2 separate regions of the Homo sapiens genome follow, and region 2 is linked to region 1. Evidence: fine-mapped expression QTL. Tissue or cell type: whole blood. Region 1 holds a variant in brackets; the other region holds the start of a gene. All regions are shown on one strand. Distances are between the middles of the regions.

Region 1 (2,689 bases):
TGGTCCACTGTCTGTTGCCAAACCTGTAGAGACCTTACCTATAAACCAGAGAATACAGTTGTATTATAAAATAAAAAGTGTTGTTTTTGTTTGTTTGTTTTTGAGACAGGGTCTCGCTCTGTCACCCAGGCTGGAGTGCAGCAGCACAATCATGGCTCACTGCAGCATCAACCTCCTGGGCTCAAGTGATCCTCCCACCCCACCTCTGCCTCCTAACCAGCTAGGACTCCAGGTGCCCACCACCATGTCTGCCTAATTTTTTTTTTTTTTTTTGAGATGGAGTTTCGCTCTTGTTACCCAGGCTGGAGTGCAATGGCACAATCTCGGCTTACCGCAACCTCCACCTCCCAGGTTCAAGCAATTCTCCTGCCTCAGCTTCCCAAGTAGCTGGGATTACAGGCACCCACCATCACACCTGGCTAATTTTCTATTTTTAGTAGAGACAGGGTTTCCCCATGTTGGTCAGGCTGGTCTCAAACTCCTGACGTCAGGTGATCCGCCCACCTTGGCCTCCCAAAGTGCTAGGATTACAGGCGTGAGCCACCGTGTCCGTCCATCTGGCTAATTTTTAAAATTTTTTCTGTAGAGATGAGGTCTCGCTTTGTTGCCCAGGATGGTCTTGAACTCCTGGGCTCAAGCAATCCTTCTGCCTTGGCCTCCCAAGTGCTGGGATTACGGGCACAAGCCACCACACCCCACCTGTCTATTTTACAATTTTCCTTTGAGCTCTTTTTTCCAGCAGTCATGAAGCTGGCAAATGGCAGAACTGGAGCTAGAAACTGCTGACTCCCTTTATCTTTTCCATAGCATCCCAAGCCTAAAACCAGACTGGCACAAATGGTACATGTCCCTGGTAACAAAAGGCCCTCACCAGGAGTGGGAATGGGCCAAAGCAATTCTCTTGCTTCTACAAGAAAAACAGCAAGAAGCACAACAGTACATGTCTAGCTGACTAAGGGGTCAATAATGCGCAACAGCACATGCCTAGCTGAATAAGGGGTCAATAATGTATTCAAGATATAATGAGATCTATTCAATAAGACAGGTTAGAGCCCTTGAAATAAGTAGATCTTGTAAAATAAGTCTCATTTTAGATACCCAGGTAGAGATTACAGTTTTTAAGTATTAGCTAACAATATAGTATA[T/C]GCAACTTTCTAAAATACCTAAAAACATACCAAATTCTTGATAATATGACCCCTAATTTCTAAAGTATAACAAAAATTCCAAAATTTTACTGTAAAAACTGCAAACAAGAAAGCAGTATGTACAGTTTTTAGTTTCCCTTTGACCCCCCGCCCAAGGTAATTACTGACAGCAACTTGATGCATATCCTTCCAGACTTTTTTCTAGGTCGTATTTTCAAATATACAGGGAAGCTGAGCACACTGGTGTGTGCCTGTAGTCCCAGCTGCTTGGGAGGTTGCAGCAGAAGGATCACTTGAGGAGTTCAAGGCTGTAATGCGCTAGTGCTGTTTTTTTTTTTTACTAAACAGTATTATTTTGGAGATCTTTCCATGTTGGTGAATACCATTACCTTATTTTTTTTAACTATTCCATGGTATTCCACAGTATTATTATTCTATAATTTAACCATTCCTCTATTGTTGGTAACTACAAAACTTTACAAATCAATAATTATTTTTTCATTTTATAGGTCAAATCCTATTATAACAAATTTGGCCAGGTGATGTGGCTCACTTTGGGAGGCTGAGGAGGGAAGACTGCTTGAGCCCAGAAGTTTGAGACCGGCCTGGGCAATATGGCAAGACCCCATTTCTATAAAAAAGAAGAAATGAAAATTTTATTAAAATATTTTCAAGAAATTATCATCAAGAAGTATTTGATGTGATACAATGCTAGTAAAACCAACTGCCTAAACTGTCCCTAAAGTGTGCTATTATAGGATTCAAATACTCTCCTATACAGTTATGAATACTTTTTAGGACATGCATATTGTAGTCATATACCATCTTAATCACAATTCATTCAAATATTCCCAAAAGACAGATCGATAGCTACATGAAATTTCAAATTGGGGTTGTTGTATCTATTGGAAAGCTCTAACAGCCTTCAGTTAAGCCACTTTCCTCCTGCTTTATACTATTTTGTTTTTCTTGTCAAAATTGTCAGAATATTTTTCTTCAGATTAAATAAAATGCAAGAAAATTCACTGTCCTAGTTCACAGTTAGTGGCGAAGAACACAAGCCATACCCTTAACCTTGAACAAGAGTGCTTAATACACCTGAGTACTCTATGATTATCTCAATGAATATAGAATCTGTATTTGATCATATATGAGGTAAATCAGCAGGAGGGAGTTTACCTGGTTCCAAAGGAATCTGAAAGCTTCTTCTTGTACAAATTTTTTAATACGTTCTTCATCTCTTTCTTTTCGTAATCTACAATAATTCAAAACACATTATTGACATAAGGAAGGGTGCTTTGACTCAGACTTCCTGTTACAACTCATAAACACATGCATTGTAAAGAGATTAATAATCTAATAGTTGTCTTTCCCACTTTTAGAATATCTAAATTAAAACCTTATTTTATTTTTATTTTTTTAACCTCAGAATCAAAATGGAACAGTTTTATAAGTGACATCATAAACCTTAATTTTGAACTGTGACTCAAAGTAGAAGCCAAAGGAGATATGACTGAAATACAGGTATTAGTTCTACAAAGTAT
Region 2 (2,689 bases), 250 kb after region 1:
TAGAATCAGTTAAGTTCTTTAGTTAAAAAAGTTAATTTGGGCCAGGCGCAGTGGCTCACGCCTGTAATCCCAGCACTCTGGGAGGCTGAGGCGGGCGGATCACGAGGTCAGGAGATCGAGACCATGCTGGCTAACATGGTGAAACCCCATCTCTACTAAAAAATACAAAAAATTAGCCGGGCGTGGTGGCGGGCGCCTGTAGTCTCAGCTACTCGGGAGGCTGAGGCAGGAGAATGGCGTGAACCCAGGAGGTGAAGCTTGCAGCGAGCCGAGATTGTGCCACTGCACTCCAGCCTGGGCGACAGAGCGAGACTCCGTCTCAAAAAAAAAAAAAAGTTAATTTGTGAGGAAACTGAAAATTCAATTATTTTTCAGAAAGCAATGTTTTTGTTAAACAGAAATTAACCAAATAAAACGAAATCCTTACAGTAAACTTCAATCCCAGCAAGACTTAAAGTATTTCTGCTTTGCAGTCATTCCTGCCATGTAGAACACTTCCCCAGGCCCAACACCCCACAACACCTGGGGCCTTACCTCTACCTGGGGACTGACCACATTATAATTAAGAAGGCTTAACTCACGATGAAGGGGACTGCTCTAGTGGACGAGTTGGGCCGATCCCTTTATTGACTCCGTTAGGATGGGAGATGGGGGTTGGAGGGATAGGCGTTAGGGGTATAAAGGGGCCAGCTTGGGAATCAAACCCTACTTCCAGAGTCCCTTCGGGCTTTGAACATGCCAGAAACATTTTCCCTGCTTAGAGCACTGTGCTGAATTTTGTTAAACTTGTGATTAAATCGTCATGAAAGCTTACACGTGCATTTAAAAATTATTCAGATATGCACCATTAGGGATAATCAGGCTAATAGTACCAGACCTTGAGTTCATTGAGGACTGGATTAGTCCCTTAAGTATCGTGGTAAATGTTAATTGAACAAATTCCAAGTTTATAGCCACCCACTTTCTGTCATATCAGCATTTCAGTTATTGAAAAATTAAGTTCTAGCTTTTCTTTTAAGGAACTTTAAAAATCACAAGTTCGAATTTTAAAAAGGAATCCTAAGACATTTTTCCTCGTCTGCTGACATATTTCCACAGCAAATGCTAAACTAATAGCTAGGCTATTATTAGGTGATTTTGCCATCTTAAAATCTTTTGGTTTCTGAGTTCGAGGAAAGGCGTTGGGGGCAAATATGTAAGAGAGGCTGTGAGGGATGTAATACTGCAAACGCTAACGTTTTGTTTTCATAGTTGTTTGGCCACCTCGCGAGATCCAGTGAACCGGAGGAGTTCCTGTTTTTCCCTTTTAATTTTTGTCAATCTAATCTTCAAAGTCAACAAAGCTAAAATCGAGCACCCAGGTGGTTCACCTCCCCAGAGGGGCTCAGATCATGAAATAAACGCCACCAAAAAAACGCTGGAAGAGGCAGCCCACAGTGAAAAGTCCCAGGAAGTGATTTCCGGTCGAAGGTGGGAGGGGCGGCTGATTTCCGGTCGAAGGGCAGGCGACGGCTCTTGCGCAAGCGCGCTTCGCACTTTGCGGGCTTTTTTTTTTTTTTTTTTTTTTTTTTTTTTTTCCTTTCCCCTCCCCCTCCCTCTCCAAGCCGGAGGGGTCCTGAGGTGACAGCGCCTGCAACTGAAATTTCAGCAGCGGGAGAAGATGGACAAGAGAAAGCTCGGGCGACGGCCATCTTCATCCGGTGAGAAAGGGTCAGAGAAGGGCTGAACATATTGTCTCCTACCCGGGGGAAACGGGAGGCGCAGGCGGCAGCTGGGGTTGCGGCCCGAAGCCGCGGGGGCGAGGGCGGGGGCGGGGAGAGGAAGGGGCGCGCACAATGGAAGGCTCCCGGGTCGCCCCCGCCCCTGGAGTCGAAGACCCGGTCCGAGCTGTCATCGAAGCCTCGGGCGCTCTTCACCTCAAAACCCCTTTTATTTTTTCCCTCCTCCCGCGAACACCCTCCTTGCGTCTCATCGGCCCATGGATCTTCCCGGTTGGCTTGTCACTCTCTGCCACGCCTTCCTCGTAATTCCACCAATGTTCCAATTTCATTTCGGCTTCTCAGCGCCTGACCCCACTTTCCTCTCTTCCTTTGATTCTCGACTTTGCGTCCCTTCCCCTCTCCCTCCTCTTTCCCTCAGCAGGTAGCTGCTGCTGGGGAGGAAAGGTGGGGCTTGCGACCGGAGACTCCTTTTCTTTGATACAATGCCTCTCCGGGTCTCGTTCTGCTGAACAGGCCCGCCTAATAGCCTTTTTCTTTTCCAGCCTACCCTGCGTCTTCCAAAAGTGATTGGAAAGTCAAACAAAGGATTTGAAGCCGTGCTTTCGTTGTGTTTTTATTTTCAGCATATTTTTTGTTTTGGACGTTACTTTGTTTTAAATGACTATCTTCAGTTTTGTGTACAACGTCTTGGAAACAAGAAAGTGGAGTTATAAAAACGTGAGGTAGAGCTCCTCCCAGTTGAGAAGTTTTTATCAAACATTTCATCCATTAGGGGGTCCTCAAGTCCTTGTGTTAAGTCCTATGGATGGTAGGAGGAGAGGACGAGGACTCATATGCTTACAGTCCAGTACACAAACGAACGCCCAATGAATCAATTATTTCATTTCATTTTTCTGTTTCTGATGGTACCGTTGGTTTCTGCAGAGACAGTTAACAATTACAGATTTATTGGCCGGGCGCGGTGGCTC

What was found. PIP is the estimated chance that this variant, and not a neighbour inherited with it, causes the effect.
Region 2: it holds the start of SENP7, and the variant in region 1 is fine-mapped to the expression of SENP7 in whole blood (INTERVAL, PIP 0.98).

What each region holds. Positions count from the first base shown.
Region 1 is chr3:101,762,196-101,764,884 of GRCh38, reverse strand. It overlaps CEP97 (centrosomal protein 97), which reads right to left. Exons shown (of 11, transcript NM_024548.4): 10 at 2,325-2,400; 11 at 1-38. Among named protein-coding and RNA genes, the nearest start is that of NXPE3, 16 kb to the left of the region's middle. The variant T/C (reference allele first, on the strand shown) is at 1,146.
Region 2 is chr3:101,512,102-101,514,790 of GRCh38, reverse strand. It overlaps SENP7 (SUMO specific peptidase 7), which reads left to right and starts at 1,579. Exons shown (of 24, transcript NM_020654.5): 1 at 1,579-1,700. The coding sequence starts at 1,661.